2 separate regions of the Homo sapiens genome follow, and region 2 is linked to region 1. A link means that fine-mapping ties the variant in region 1 to the expression of a gene that starts in the linked region. Tissue or cell type: spleen. Region 1 holds a variant in brackets; the other region holds the start of a gene. All regions are shown on one strand. Distances are from middle to middle.

What was found. PIP is the estimated chance that this variant, and not a neighbour inherited with it, causes the effect.
Region 2: it holds the start of C11orf21, and the variant in region 1 is fine-mapped to the expression of C11orf21 in spleen (GTEx, PIP 0.91).

What each region holds. Positions count from the first base shown.
Region 1 is chr11:2,337,108-2,345,206 of GRCh38, reverse strand. All of the region lies in intron 1 of CD81-AS1 (CD81 antisense RNA 1), which reads left to right. It overlaps LOC124902611 (a long non-coding RNA gene), which reads right to left. Exons shown (of 2, transcript XR_007062551.1): 2 at 3,113-3,288. Among named protein-coding and RNA genes, the nearest start is that of CD81, 36 kb to the left of the region's middle. RefSeq lists enhancers at 4,919-5,834, 5,835-6,752. The variant T/C (reference allele first, on the strand shown) is at 3,572.
Region 2 is chr11:2,297,186-2,305,284 of GRCh38, reverse strand. It overlaps C11orf21 (chromosome 11 open reading frame 21), which reads left to right and starts at 3,367. Exons shown (of 4, transcript NM_001329958.2): 1 at 3,367-3,529; 2 at 4,672-4,765; 3 at 5,578-5,857; 4 at 7,364-8,099. The coding sequence starts at 3,477. The coding sequence ends at 5,829. TSPAN32 (tetraspanin 32) reads right to left here and starts at 3,272. Exons shown (of 10, transcript NM_139022.3): 1 at 3,070-3,272; 2 at 2,327-2,441; 3 at 1,081-1,178. The coding sequence starts at 3,135. RefSeq lists a silencer at 5,732-6,026.

The DNA.
Region 1 (8,099 bases):
GTCCACAGATTCAAATGCTAAGCATATCCAGAAACACCTTGCAGACACACCCAGAATAATGTTTAACCAAACATCTGGGCACCATGGCCCAGTGAAGTGGACGCATAAAATTTCCCATCACAAGTTGACAGTAGTCTGTTAGCATTCTCTGGAAAATGGGGGAGATGATGGGAATCGCCTCACCTGCAACCTTCAAGTCTTCCAAAGGGGCCCACATCTCTGCCATTCCCCACCAATGAGATTTTCTTTTTGGTGTATTGCCTTGGCTAAGGTGGTGGGCAGTTTCAGAAGTTTCTACTTGGTAACACTATGATAGTTTTTACCCTACAGGACAATGAGCCTACGTGAGGATTCTGCCAACTACCAAGATTGTCTGAGTGTACTTTTAGGGTCTGGGGGAATATGCAGCATTCTGGGAATGCAAAGGGATGACTCAGTGTGAGCTAGAGGTGGACCAGGATTGCACTTTGCTGGCCTCCATACGCCCTACTCTAGTGGGCCCATGATGGTACCTTGACTCCAGCTCTCAGTGTCAACTTGGTCCCGGAGTCCCCCAGCCCTGGGCATTGCCCTTTTCCTAGTGCACAGTTACTGAAATACACCTTTAGTGGTGGGGTGGGGAAGGACTGGGGGAGCCTGCTATGGTACTGCAGGGTCCGTCCTCCTGGGACCTAATCCCTCCTTCAATCAGTGGGGTTTGGGTTTGAAAACTGTCTCAGGTGCAGAAACTGGGCAAGAGATCATGCTTTTTCATTGGGGTATGTATTCATCTATTAGGGTTGCAAAACAATATCACAGACTGGGCAGCTTAAACACAGACTTTCATCATCTCATGGTTCTGGAGACTGGAAGTCCGAGATCAAGGTGTTGGTAGTGCTGGTTCCTCCCGAGGCCTCACTCCTTGATTTGCAGATGGCCACCTTCTCCCTGTGTCCTCATGTGGTCATGCCTCTGCATGTGTCCTCATCTCCTCTTCTTACAAGGACACCAGTCAGATTGGATTAGGGCCCACCCTAATGTCTTCATTTTAATTTAACTACATCTTTAAAGGCCCTTTCTCCAAATACTTACACACTGAGGTCCTGGGGGGTTAAGACTTCAGTATATAAATTTTGAGGGGACACAACTCAGCCATAATAGGATGGCTGTTCTCAGCCTCCTGAACAACCATCCTGATGTCTTTTGATCATGTAGATTAAGCAATACCTTGCTGGCTGCGCACCTGCCTTGCCCAAGGAATGCCATGTTTTGGTGATGGTCTCACTAGTTCTGCCAGTCAAGGCCCCTGGCTCTTTGATGGCATTGCTGCTTCCTGTGTGTATTAGCTCATCCTCACACTGTTATAAAGATACTACCGGAGACTGGGCAATTTATAAACAAAGGAGGTTTAATTGACTCACAGTCCCACATGGCTGGGGAGGCCTCAGGAAACTTACAGTCATGGCAGAAAAGGAAGCAGGCACCTTCTTCACAAGGTGGCAGGAGAGAGTGTCAGCCAGTGTAGGAGGAACTGTCTGGCCGTGTAAGACGTGTCTGCTTCCCCTTCACCTTCCACCATGACTGAAACTTTCCTGAGGCCTCCCCAGAAGCAGCTATGAACCGTGAGCCAATTAAACCTCCTTTCTTTATAAGTTACCCACTCTCAGGTATTTCTTTATAGCTGTGCAATAACAGACTAATACACCCAGGCACAGTGGTATGCATCTGTAGTCCCAGCTACTTGGGAGATTGAGGTGGGAGGATTCCTTGAGCCCAGGAGTTTGAGGCTGCAGTGAGCCATGATTGCACCACTGCACTCCAGCCTGGGTGACAGAGACTGACCCTGTCTCAAAAAAACAAAAAACATAAAACAAAGGTAATCAACAGTAAATGAGTTCATGACAGTGGGTCCTAATCTCATAGGACTGGAGTCTTACAAGAGGAGGTGAGGACACGGACACGCACTGAGGGAAGACCCTGTGAGGACACAGAGAGAAGGCCCCGGTCATCTACAAGCCAAGAGAGGCCTCAGGAGGAGCTAGCCTTGCAAAACCTTGATCTTGGACTCCAGCCGCCAGGATTGTGAGACAATGAGTCTGTTGTATAAGCCACCCTGTCTGCGGTGCTTTGTGATGGCAGCCCCAGTAGACAAATGTACTTAGGGTTGGCTCTTTTGCCCTGAAGCTTCTAAGCACCACTCAAGTGATGATTTGGCACTGTCTCCCTGGAACCTTAGGAGAGGGTTAAGTCCTGTGCTATAAGACAATGCTCTGATATTGACACACTCTTCCTTCTCTAACTTTCTATTTCACCATGATCCTGCACACTCAGGAGCTGACTCCTAGGTACTCCCAGTTCCTGACTAGTTCCTGCAGCTTCCATGCCCAGTCCTCTTTATATCTTCCCCAGCTCTGAACTTCTGGCAGCTTGCTGACTGAGCATCTCCACTGTGAAGGGAGAGAGTCCGTGGAATCCCACCCCGTTCCAAGGACAGAAGCTGTCTGTGACAGTTCATTTGGTCTGTCGACTTGACTGGGCCATGGGTTGTCCAGATATTTGGTCAAGCAGTATCCTGGGTGTGTCTGTGAGGATGAGATGAGCATTTGATCAGTGGACTGAGTGAAGCAGCTTGGCCCACACAGTGTGTGTGGGCCTGTTAGAAATACCAAAATTGTTAGAAATAGATAATCGGTGCTGCGAAGAAGAGTCAGCACAGAGACAAAAGATCTCTCAGCAAGGCCATCTTTACTTTCTGCAGAAAGGGTGCTCAACTGCAGATGGAACAATGGTGAGAGCACACCTGAACAAAGGAAAAGCAGATGTATTTATCCCTTACGCATTTGGGTTGTCCTTACTGCTGTGTCCTGCATCCATTGGCTGGAGTGGGACCTCACTATCTTAAACTGATACCCGATTTGAAACTTTCCTAAATAGGTAAGTGCAAGGAAGAACAAAGAAGTTGCTTACAAAAGGTTTCAGGAAGCAATAACATTTCCAATTAAGGAAGGGGCATAGGCTGTGAGCTGGAATGTGTCTGTGAGCATGTCCAACAGTTACATAGGATAGGGCTTAACAAAGAGCTATTAGCACAAAGCAAGGAGGCTTGAAGAAAATTAGTCTTTAAAAGAATCTATTATTTCTAAGACTTATGATTTATTCTTTAACAAGAAGGGGAACTTTGAAGCAGAAACTTTTTACTTCCTACAATTCCCTCCTCTTTTACTGTATAGTTTTCCTCTTCAAACTTTCTTAGCATGTCTTGGCTTAGTTGTTTTGATGAACTCCTGGATGTATGGTACGACATAACACCTACGAAGAAAGAGTATACTTATTAGCGTTGTTAAAGAGGTAAGAATTGAGGCTACATTTTTTTTTCTTTTTCTGGTTGATGAAATGCCAGAGTAAAAGGGATAGCCAACTGAACTACAGCATCAGTACTGCTCTCATTATTTGGCAGAGTGTCCAGTAAAGGTCCTCCATAATACCACCATACATCCGCTCAGGGATGAATAAGGGCAGACCGATGGGTCAGCTTTTGGAGGTGCCTGACTTTACTGCAACCTTTTAAGTCTCCAAGGAATGCCAAGTTTTT[T/C]CCCCTCGTTGTTGGAGACACGAGGTAAAATTGGTTTTGGAAGATGAAGGCTGGATGGCCCTCGGGGGCTGACCCACAGGGCACTGAACTTCAGGAAATAGCAGAGAAAGAGCTTGGCACAATTCGTTATTCCAGGTGGTGGAATCTTCGAAAAGAGCTACCACGCACTCCATGTCCGCTTGATTTGAGGACCGTCCCAGTGGAAAGGAGGCATCCTGAGCCTCTGGCCTACCGCGCCCACAAGCTTAATGGTCACTTTTGCTTAAAGTGCGAACGGGATATTTAATCCGTTTTAACCGGCATTTATGTCTTTATACCCTCTTTCAATGGCTAGGGTTTGCCTTGGGTCTCCTATTTCTACTTCTAAGAACTTGCTTGTGTCATTTGGCATGAGGCGAGGCATAGTTTGATGTTGTAGGTTTGGGAAAGGGGCAGTCGTAGGAGGTGGAGGAGGGAGAACAAAGCGCACCTTGAAGCCTATAGGATCCCTTCCAGTGACCTCTGCTCCCAAACCACAGAAACTCTCTAAAGTGGGGTTAGAGTTGCTAGTGGTAGGAATAGTCATGGATATAGGCACTGGGTTAGGAAAGGAAAGGAAAGAGATAGACTCAGCTTTCCTTAGCTTTAATTTGGTAGGGCTTGATCCAGAAACAATGGCCCATGATTCTGTTGATAATGGTGCTTGCTTGACTCTGGTGGGACGTGTCCACCCCCTTTCCGTTGTACGAATAGCAATCTCGGTAGTCAGCAGCACAAGGCAGGGTCCTTCCCAGGCTGGCTCCAGTTTCCCTTCTTTCCACCCTTTGATGAGAACGGGATCCCCAGGCTGGTGCTGATGTACTGGAAACTCTCAGGGCAGGGCCTGTGCTAGAAGACCTTTTGTTTTAAGGGTGGAGGATAAACCAAGTATATCATTTCTAAAAATTGATCTTTTGTTTTAAAGGTGGGGACATCAGCAGTGGATTTTATAGTCCTTAGTGCCTTCTTGCTGAGAAATTTCCTTTAGTACCTATTTTTATTAGTTTTTAGACCAAAGAAAGCCAAACACCATTTTATATTTGACAGTGCTTCCTGTGTGATTTTATACCAGATCAGCTAAATTTCACCTTTACATTAGTGTGTTATTCGTGTTAAACTTCATTTTAATAAAACCTTGTAGACATATGTATCCAATTTTAAGGTCTGACCACAAGGTGAGATTTCCAGACTCTTTTTTTAAACTTTTATAATTTTTAACCTTTCGTAATTTTTGTTAAAGAGCAGGTTAGCGCTTTAAGAAAAACCCACTGGGCTTTTATTTTAATGTCCAGTTCACAGAAAAACTGGAAGATACCCCTTTAACTTTAGCCAATATGTTTCCTTTACAATGAATATTTCAAAACTTGCTTAAACCTTCGAAACAATTTTTTTTCTCTCAAAGATGATAACCATTCTTTTCCAAAGCGAACTTCCTTTATGTCTGTGGACTAGACAGCCTAAGGTCACAACATTAGAAGTTAGGATAATACATGTTATACTGTTAACTTTTAGCAAACTTTACTTTTGTTGAAAACCTTGTAAGTTTGGGATTTCAATTATCCTTTGCTATTAATAAGACCTTGTTTAGTCCAAATTTAACTTAGAATTGGTACAAATGATGTTTGAAATGCTTGCTCCCCGGTGCCATAAAGAAATGGCACTTGAACATAAATTTAATTTCCTACGCAAGGTCATTTTTATACTTTCTGTAGAAAGGGTACACTCGGCAGCAGTTTTGCCACGAGAGTACACTGAGCAAAGGAGACAGGGTCATTTATAACCTGACGCGTCCACCCTACTGCTGTGTCTGGTTTCCATTGGCTGGAACGGGACCTCACATTCTGTTTCACGCGCGTCCGTGTGAAGAGACCACCAAACAGGCTTTGTGTGAGCAACGCGGCTGTTTATTTCACCTGGGTGCAGGCGGGCTGAGTCCGAAAAGACAGTCAGCGAAGGGAGATAAGGGTGGGGCCGTTTTATAGGATTTGGGTAGATAAAGGAAAATTACAGTCAAAGTGGAGTTGTTCTCTGGCGAGCAGAGTGGGGGGTCGCAAGGTGCTCAGTGGGGGAGATTTTTGAGCCAGGATGAGCCAGGAGAAGGGATTTCACAAGGTAATGTCATCACTTAAGGCAAGGACCGGCCATTTACACTTCTTTTGTGGTGGAATGTCATCAGGTAAGGTGGGGCAGGGCATATTCACTTCTTTTGTGATTCTTCAGTTACTTCAGGCCATCTGGGCGTATATACGTGCAAGTCACAGGGGATGCGATGGCTTAGCTTGGGCTCAGAGGCCTGACATTCTGCATTTGTCCCGACTGGCTAGCAACTTAGAACTTTTTAAAAGAGGCAAAGGCAGAGGAGAACAAAGGAAGAAGTAACTCGTGGAATGCTGAGAAAGGTAAAAACACCTTCAAACTGTCAGGCCTCTGGGCCCAAGCTAAACCATCATATCCCCTGTGACCTGCACGTATACATCCAGATGGCCCGAAGCAACCAAAGATCCACAAAAGAAGTGAAAATAGCCTTAACTGATGACATTCCACCATTGTGATCTGTTTCTGCCCCACCCTAACTGATCAATGTACTCTGTAATCTCCCCAACCCTTAAGAAGGTTCGTTGTAATTCTCCCCACCCTTGAGAATGTACTCTGCGAGATCCACCCCCTGCTGGCAAAACATTGCTCCTAACCCAACCGCCTACCCCAAAACCTGTAGGAACTAATGATAATCCACCACCCTTTGCTGACTCTCTTTTCGGACTCAGCCCGCCTGCACCCAGGTGAAATACACAGCCTTGTTGCTCACACAAAGCCTGTTTGGTGGTCTTTTCACACGGACATGTGAGACACAAACAAGGAAGAGGAACAGGATAGGACCTAATGCTTGCCTGGACCAGTATAAGCATGCCAGAGCAAACATTTAGACTAAATTGTGGGAGCTAAGGACATAAAGTACATTGATTTCTTTATTACGTCTAGCAGATATTTAAGAATGTTAGCGCTGGTCTTTGAATACATTTTGCTACTAAGAGAAGTTACTATTTATTCCTGATTAGATGGGGAGGAAAGTCTTTTGAGGAGGAAACTCTACTTCACTTTTCACAATGACTCCTTCCTGATTCTGTCAGTATCTTAAGGCTTGGCTCAGTGCAAACAACTCCCCAACTCCTAGGCAATTTTCCTAACTCTACTCCTATTTCCCCATTACTTAATGAATACCCATTGTGGCTTTTTCCCTCATTCACCTGGGAGGAACCATCTATTGTCCTGTCTTGAAGGGAGTTCCTTCTAGGTCTGGTTGGACCTTTGTATGGTAATTCATTAAGAGTTAGATCCCCTGTTAGCAAACCTGCTGGGTTAAGGGAATGATCAGTGGTTAATGTTAAATCATCTTTTTCTGACAGAATCGCTTCATATTTTAAATTTTTTGAGTTAGTAAGCTACCTTTTTGCTTTTCTTTTTTTTTTTTTTTTTTTGACTTAGGATAGTTCTGACCTGGTGAGGTGTGCTCACAATGAGGTTTCTTCTCAAAGTTATTTTTCTACTTTCTTCTGTCAGCAAAGAAGTTGCTGCTACAGATTGAATGCATTTGGACCATCCGCGGGTTACTGGGTTAAGGATTTTTGATTAGGAAGGCTATGGGTTGTCAGTGGCCTCAGTGTTTTTGGGCTACGCCGTTGTTTACACCACCAACAAGGTGGAATGGCTGCTTAAGGAGAGTAAAGCTAGGACAGGGGCAGTTACTAATAGATGTTTTAACCTTCCCACCTGTTGGATTTCTGGTAATTGCCACATGAGGGGGTTTGGTCTGTCTCGTGTGAGCTTTTTGTGTAAGAGTTTTGTTTTTAGGGCATGAGTCTACCCATAGACGACGGTATCCATACAACTAATCCCAAAATTTTCTAAGCTCTTATTTAGTCTCCAGCAGAGGCAAGAATGTGATGCCTTCAATCCATTCAAGCTCAATTTTCTGTTTACCTTTGCTAATTAAATGACTTATTTGAATATTTGACCAAATAAATTTGGAGACTCCGTAAACCCTTGGGGTAAGACCGTCTATTGGTATTACCATTTTCCACCGGAGTGAGGGTCTTCTCACTCAAAGGCATATAGGTCCTGGCTGTCCTCTGCAAATGGACAAGCCCAGAAGGCATCTTTTACATCTATTACTGTAACAACAGGGTGGGTAGTTTGGACTAACTGGTTAATAGCTCTAGGGTCTTGCAGTCACTGGTGTGACTCGTCTTGCTTCTTTACAGGCAGTATTGGAGTGTTCTAGGGTCACAGAGAAGATCTTCAATGATCAATTATAGGTTTTAAATTTACCCTGGCTTTTAAAGGAATAGGGTACACTGTTTTCTCTTTACTACTTCTCTTTCTCTCTCTCTGACTCTCTCTCTCTTACTCTCTGTCTCTCTTTTTCTCTCTCTAACTCCCTCTTTGTCTCTGTCTCTCTCTTTCTCTCTCTCTGACTCTCTGTCTCTCTCTTTCTCTCTCTTTGACTCCCTCT
Region 2 (8,099 bases), 40 kb after region 1:
TGCTCGTGTGCCCCGGAGCAGGAATCCTGGCTAGTGCTGGAGCTGCTGGGTCCTCCTCTGCCCACCATGGGCCCACCCAGGGCTGGTTGGCCCGGCAGCAGCTCCAGGAGGTGACTCTATTCCTATTCTTGGAGACATTTATAAACCAGGGTCATTAAACAAGCATTTGCTGAACTTGAAGGCTGAGCTGAAAACCCTGCCAGCCCTGGGGACCCAGGAGGCTCTGCCCTCAGGGACCCCCAGAGTGGTCCAGCTTCACAGGCTAAACAGGGAAGCAAAGCCCCCAGCACAAGCTCCTCATGGCTGGAAAGGGGAGACGGGAGGCTAGAGGGACAGGTGGGAGCCCGGGGCGCCAGGGAGGAGCTGCCCCAGCTGGGGTGAGAGAAGAGGGCTGTGGGCCTAGCAGGGGCAGGACAGGCGTGGGGAGGCTGCCGCCAGGTGGGGTCTGCGATGACCATCGAGTGGCAGGGACCAAGACAGAAGCCCATGGGGAGGAGTAGGAATGAGGGTGACAAGAGGCCACTGCTATGGGGTGGGGTGGAGGGGCCTATGGGACCTCGGGGCTGGGGAGACACCTCCGGCAGCTGGGAAGGAGAGTGTGCAGCTCCGGAGAGCCCAGGCTGGAGAGCTCAAGGGGCGTTTCCTGAGCCTGGCCCGGCCTCCTCCGAACAGGAAATGGGATGCTCCCAGTGCCCTCCCAGAGCTTGCTGGGCAATAGAACCAGACCCTCCCAGGGACTTTGGAAACAGCTCCCAGGGTCAGGAGGGCCGTCTCTCTCTTTCAGAGCTCCTATAGGAACCCTTGTTGGGCGTGTAGATGACAGGGTGAGGTAGGGCCTGGTGGAGGGGCCTTGGCTACCCAGGTAGGGGGTCTCGGCTGGCTAGCATCCCTGGGGCCTCTGTTTCTGCCTAGATACTCAGGTGTGGGGTTGACGTGGGGGTCTCGGCTGGCCAGCATCCCTGGGGCCTCTGGTTCTGCCTGGTCACTCAGGTGTGGGGGTGGCACACAGCCCTGCCAGCTCTTCACTCCTTTCTAATTCTTTTCTGGGGGCCTGGGCATCTGGGAACACAATGAACTCACCCCTGCCATGAGGCCCTGGGCCTCCCTCACGGTGGCTGCAGCGCTCAGCACGGCTCCCAGAGTCAGGAGGCCCACCAGGCTCAACCCCGCAGAGAAGGCTGGTTGGGAGGAGAGAGGAGGAGGGTTAGGGGTGCCCAGGACAGGTCCTGAGTGCACACAGCCTGGGTGTGAAATCTAACTTGGGAGTCAGGGGCCGTGAGGGACTCCTGGGGGGCTCTGAATGGGCCTGTCTCTCCATCAGACGGCCCTGAGGGAAGGAGGAGGGAGGTGGGACTCGTTCAGCCTGGGGGACTGCCCCTCCTTCCCTCTTTTCCTCCCTGCCCTCCATGCCTGTGGGGCTATCTTGGAAGCCACATGCTCCCTGCCATGCCCTAGTGACAAGTGGCCGGACTGGAGCTGTAATCTTATCAGTCTGGACCTGGACCTGGGCCCCAGGCATCCTCCTGCCATGTCCTAGTGACAAGTGGCCGGACTGGAGCTGTAATCTTATCAGTCCGGACCTGGACCTGGGCCCCAGGCGTCCTCCTCCAGGGAGGCCCTGGTCCTAGGACTTGGGGAAAAGCATTGGGTTCTAAGGCAGTATCCCTGACCTCCTGGGCCTCAGTTTCCCTACATCTGCCCACCGGGCTGCAGCCTTCCTGGGCCCCCTGAGCTCCTGCCTGAGAGTCCCCTGCAGATCTGGCTCTGACATCCCCTCATTAAAGGGGCCTTCCTCAGCCTTACCCCTGAGTGGCCCCAGCAGGCTCTGGCCCTCGCTCCCGCTCTCTGGATGTTGGATAAGTCGCTGCTGAGTCCCTGCAGGGAGGCGTCTGGCTAGAGCAGCCCCCACCCCCTCCCCACCCACATCCCAGGTCCTGAGTGGAACATCAGCCATGTGGAGCCCTCATGGACCTGCTGTGCCCAGCCCCAGGCCAGTCCCAGGCCTGCCTGGGACTGAGCCCTGACTGCACAGAGCCAGGTCCTGACCGCACAGAGCCACTTCCTGACCCTGCCCGACATATACCCACACTGTGCCCACGCTCCTGTGGGGCACGAGAACCAGGCAGGAACACTGGCTGTCACCCAGACCCGAGGCCCTGCCCAGGGGAGCTAGGACTCCAGGGCAGCCCCTCCCTGCCCCTGACCACCTCTGGCTCCTGCCTAGGGCCTGGCACCATTCTGGCTGTGAGGCGTCCAGCTGGGCTCGTGCCAGCCACCCTTGCACCCGAGGCCCCTCCCGATGCAGCCAGGCCTGGACCTCACTTACCCCATTGGTGCACAGCCTGGTACGGGTTCTTCTCCAGGGACGCTCGGCGGATGACAGCAAAGTGGGCCCCGAAGTAGGTAAGAGTCACCATGGTGGCCACAGAGAGGCCCAGCAGCTGTGGATAGGGCAGACTCAGAGTGTGGGGCATGGGACTGCTGCAGGAGCAGGGAGCTCGGCCCCAGCGGGCAGGGTTGGGGCTCTCTCCAGCTTCCCGGTCCCGTGAGAGACAGGCTCAGCTGCAGGGATTCCCGGTGTTTCCGTGGAGTGGTCTCAGGAGGCCTTCACTGCAGACGCCCCAGCACACTCACAGGCACCCCCACATGGTAGACGCATACACGCACAGCCCAGCTTCCCCAGACACCCAGGACCTCTGATCATTGTGTCTACGGAGTGGGAGTGAGCCCCACCCCTGTGCCAGCACCCTCCGGGGCAGGAAGGGGAGAAGATCCCTGGAGCCCGGCAGCCAGTGCCCCTCCACCCCAGCTCGCCCCAGGCCTCAGCCCCACTCAGGCCTCCTCCAGGCTCTGTGCTGCCCCTCAGGAGGAGAGACGGGGTTGCTCATGGTGGTCCCTGCCTGCCTGCGGCTGTCTGCAAGGGCAGGACACATGTCTGCAAGGGCAGGACAGGGACAGTAGGGCTGGTGTGTGTGTCAGGGGAGGGATAATCCCTGTGCTGAGGCCCTGCCACCCCTCACCCCTGCTCACCCCCACCCACCACCCACTCCTGCCCGACCTGCCTGTTACCAAGATAAAGAAGCAGGTGACCAGCATCTGGCATTTGGCAACCCTGACTCGACTCCAAGGCCCCATGACGGTTCCTCTCCTCTCCTCTCCTCCCCTCCCTTCCCCTCCCTGTGGTTTCCAGCTGGGCAGGGGCCTCAGACCGCAGCTCACTGCCCAGGAGGTAGGCTGCATCCGCCCCTCTGTCTGTCTGTCAACATCGCCCTAGGACCGAGCTGCTGGGTGCCCCGGAAGAAGGGCAGGCAGGAAGGGGAGGGGCAGTGAGGTTGGCTCCCCCCACCACCTCACCCTGGTGCCCCCAGCCCAGCCCAAGACACCAGGGCATTTGCTGACATCTGAGGCCCTTCCCAGGAAGACATGGCCTCGTTCTTGGTGTGGCCACTGAGGACGGCGCTGAGAGGGGGAAAGTCATGGGCAGGACCTGGTGTGGGATGTGGAGGAGACGGCGCCCGGGGAGGAGGAGGTGAGCTCCCCGTCCTGGGAGTGAGCAAGTGTGGACTGGGCCTTGGGGGCGTAATCCTTGGAGGAATTTGGATGGGGTCTCCTTGGAACATCATTATTGAGGTGTTCTTAGGAAACACCCTTTGAAATGTCCTGTGACAGCTTAAGTTTTGAGAAGGTCGTTGGTTTTAATGCCTTCGTGGGCGGCACTCATGGATATTTTGTCGCAGAGCCTTCTTGGGGCCACAGGGGTGGGCTGGGGCCTCGCTCACACTCACGTGGGGCCTCCAGGGGGAGGCTTTGTAAACCTCGAATTTGCAATTACACCGAGCCGTGTAATTACGTATGGGTGGGGGCAGCGCTGCGGCCCCAGTACAGGCAGGGTTTCCGTGGGCCTCTGGGGCAGGGTGGGCCTGAAGAGGGTGAAAATGTTCCAGGTGAATCCATCATTCAGGGACCACTCCGGGCCCTCCCAGGAGTGCTAACAGGCGGCTCTGCTCGCCCCTCGGTGCTGGAATTGCTCCTCCTGCATTTGGTCAGGACCTCATCAAGGGGGAGGGGGCCCCAAGACCTGCAGGCATGGCAACCCCAGCGTGGCTGTGGGAAGAGGGCCCAGCTGCCGCCCGCTCAGGAACGCTGCTGGAGGAACTGCTGAGGCCACCGCCTCCCTCCCTCTGCGGAGGGAGAACCAGGAGAACCAGGAGGGACAACCAGGACCCCCGTCCAGCCCAGCACCCCCAGGCAGCACCCTCTGCAGCTCTGGCCCCCAGGAATTCCCACCCTGAGTCTGTGGGGGCTTGTGGAGACCTCAGATGCCTGGCACCCACAGTGTCACTTCAGCTGGGGGCCTAGGTGTGGCTCAGACTGGGGCGCAGGTATGAATGTAGGGGTGGCAACAAGAGTGAAGGTACCAGGTCTAGGGGCAGGAGGCCCCCGGGCTGTGCAAGTGGGCAGCCCGTCCTCTCCAGGGAAGATGAGCTGCTCTTGGCTATGTCTGGTTCGCCCCTAGAATTGTCTCTCTCCAACCTTGACCTCCCTGGAGCTGGTGAGGCGGGCCTGGAGCACCACCCGCTTCTGGGACACCTCTTCATCAGGTCTGAAGAATTTCGGAGCAGGGCGGGCCTGGGTTCTTGACCTGTCCTGATGGCCTCCTTCTCACACCAGCGCTGTGCCCAGGTGGCCTCACTTGTCATCTCAAAGTGGCGTCGAACCCCCTGACAGGTGGACGGGAACCCCCGGCTGGCCCTCCAGAGACCAGGTCTGACCACAGCCCCCCTCACTGTGCCCCACCAGCGGGGGCAGGGAGCCGGTGGAACCCCCACGCCCTTTGCTGAGCCACACCCTCCCACCCCAACATTCCCTCTGCAAGAGGAAGTGGCTTGTTGAGGGGAAGCCACTGTGCAGGCTGCTGCCCACCCCACACCCTCCTGCCCACCCCGCACACCCCTGCCCACCCCGCACACCGCTGCCCACCCCACACATCCCTGCCCACCCCACACACCCCTACCCAACCTTACACACCCCTGCCCACCCCACACACCCCTGCCCACCCTCACACACCCCTGCCCACCCCACACGCCCCTGCCCAACCTCACACACCCCTGCCCACCCCACATGCCCCTGCCCACCCCACACACCCCTGCCCACCCCACACACCCCTGCCCACCCTCACAAACCCCTGCCCACCCCACACACCCCTGCCCACCTGCTCTAGAGGTGGTGCCGGCCGCTGGGAGCCTGGAAGACCCCTCGAGCAGCGGGTTCAGCCCCAAGGAGCTGGCCCAGGAGGACAGCTGCCCCCACCCCTACCCCACCAAGGAGCCTGTCCTAAGGGCTGGGCCCCACTGCAAGCTGGCCTAAGGGCCCCTGGCTTTATTTCCAGGGAAGAGATTGGGCGTGGATGCATGTGCAGGCATGGATGCGTGTGCAGGCGTGGATGCGTGTGCAGACGTGGATGTGTGTGCATGCATATGTGTTTACCCGCCAGGGACTTCCTTTTTCCTCTCTCCTTCCTGTGAATTCCTGGGTCCCAGGTGCGCCCGCTCACTCTACAATGTCCTTACCCACCAGGAGGCCCCTGGCTCAATGATGCCACCTGCAGCTGCCCAACCCTCCGCCCATGGTGCCCTTGTTCCACCTGCCACCGCTCATGAACCTGTGGATCACCCAGCTCTGCACTGGCTTGCCTGCTGCTGCTGTCTCAGTTTACCTGGGCAGTTGCCCCTGGCTATCCGGCTGGGATGGGACTTGGACTTAGAAGCAGGCCCCTCCTCTGGAAAGCTGTGTCCTCGGGCCAGGAGGTGGCAGCCTCTACCTTCCTGAGACAGGGACCCTTTTCTGTCCATCAGAGGTGAGCAGCCGGGCTCTGAGGCTGGAGCCTGGGGGCCCCTGTGCTGTCTGTGAGCGCGGCCCCTCCCACCGGGGAGGCACTCAAGAGCTTCCCACCTGCGTCACAGCGAGTGGGGCCTGGAGCTTGAAGAGACCTGTGGGGGCCACGCGGGCACCTGAATCTGGCTCATGTCTGTCCTTTGCCCTGATTCTGAAATCCACGTCCCAGGAGCTGCCTTTGCAGCCTCTCCTGAGCCCAGGGAGGAGGAGGGCAGCTCCCCTTCTGGATTACCCTAGGCCTGGGTCAGCTGGGTGGGCCCCAGGGGACCTTTGAACCCCTACTGCCTGGGCAGCCCCCTTCCCCTGGAGGCACCCTGGCCTGTCCCTTGAGAGCCAAGACCATACTCAAACTGGGTTCTGGGCTCTGGGCACTGCTCTGCTCCCAACCAAGGGAGTTTCTGGGGCATGGCTGCCCGGGCCTTCCCTCTCAGTGCCGTGGGCTGCTGCCTCCGCTGGCCAACTCCAGTGGGCACTGAGGGGCACCCTGCTTCCCCCCCCAAGGAGCCTAGGCTCTGCCCTCAGTGAGGGCAGAGGGGACCCAGGGATGGCTGCCCCTTCATAGACACAGCTGTCTCCCAGGGGAGTCTAAAGGGACCCCACACCTGCGTCACAGATACCAGGGACAGACTGTAGGGGAGGCGTCTCTATCCACATCCACGCTGTGCCACCCACTAGTATGTGGGGCCGGGCACCACCAAGCCTGCTGTCCTGCCTGGGCCACCCCAGCCTGGGCTGAGACTCGGCACCCCGTGGGGGTGGAGGAGTGGGGCAGAGGCAGGAGATGCCTGGGGTAAGAGCCAGATGCCTTCAGAGTGACCCCCCGGGCCTGGGCAGGACTGGGGGCAGGGGAAGGTCCCGCTGGCAGAAAAATGCACATCGGACCCTCCCCCTAATGGTCCCCACACTCCCTGTGCAGACAAGGCAGGCTGCAGGGCAGAAGCTTCCTGCCCCATTCCTGGTGGTCAGCGTGCTTTATTTAGCCCTTGATGAAGAGACTGTTTCATGACCAGCTGGGGCAGTGAGCTCCTGACACCTTTAAAGGTGCAGTGTTGCCTCTCTCAGGAACCTAGAAGTGAACGCCCATCCCCTTTCAGGCCAGACCCCGATGCTCAAGCGTCAGGGCCCAGGCCCATTGCCAGGCTGCCCTCTCTCTGGGACAGGTGCAGGGACCCTTGGGAGGGGCACAAGGTTGCAGAGGATCTTTGAGCAGCATGAGGAATATGGTGAGAGAAGGCTTTAGGAGGCGGGTTCAGTGTCAGTGTTCGCTATGGACAGAATCGTGTTCCTGCAAAATTCATAGGTTGAAGCCCTGCCCCGCAATGAGATAGTGTTAGGAAGTGGATCTCTGGGAGGTAATTAGGGACAGATGAGGACATGAAGGTCCCTGGTCCCATAGGATTAGTGCCCTTATACCAAGAGACATTTAGGAGCTCCCTCTTCTCTCTCTCTCTCCTTACATGCACTGAAGGACAGCTGTATGAAGACACAGAGAGAAGGCAGCCATCTGTAAGCCAGGAAGAGAGCCCTCACCAAGACTGGAATCAGCAGCACCTTGATATTGGACTTCCAGCCTCCAGAACTGCAAGAAATAAGCACCTGCTGTTTACATGCCCAGCCTGCAGTGCTTCCTTATGGCAGATTGGAGCTAACTGAGACAGCTCCCAGCACTCATTCATTCATTCATTCATTCACTCACCTCATGTCTACTAAACAGCTCTGGGCTGGCTCTGGGAAGCAGTGAGTCACACACACTGCCCCCAGCAACGTGTGAAATATGTTTAGAGACAGTGGGCTACAGCGGAAAGGGTAGATGCCCTGAGAACCCCAGCGGTGCTGGTCAGAAGCACAGGCCTTGTTGGGCTGAGGCTGGCATGGGGTGAACCTGGGGAGCCTCGGGGGCAGAGGTGATAGATGTGGGGTGTTTCAAGGCAGTGAGACAAAGAAGGGAGATGGGTGGTGCCCCCCAATGCCAGGCTTCACCAGCCTCCCAACACACGAGTGTTCACCCGCCTGGATGAGACACCTCTGTGGACTTGGGAGTGAAGGCAGTGAATTTGGGCAATGCTGGAGGCCGTGCAGGTGGGAGGTGGGACAGGGGCAAGAGGCCGGGGCCCAGGCAGGAGCTGACAGCCCACCAGTGGTGCTCCCCTGAGAAGCAACCTCAGTGGGTGGCTTGGGGTCTGCTGGGCTGTCCCCACACTGAC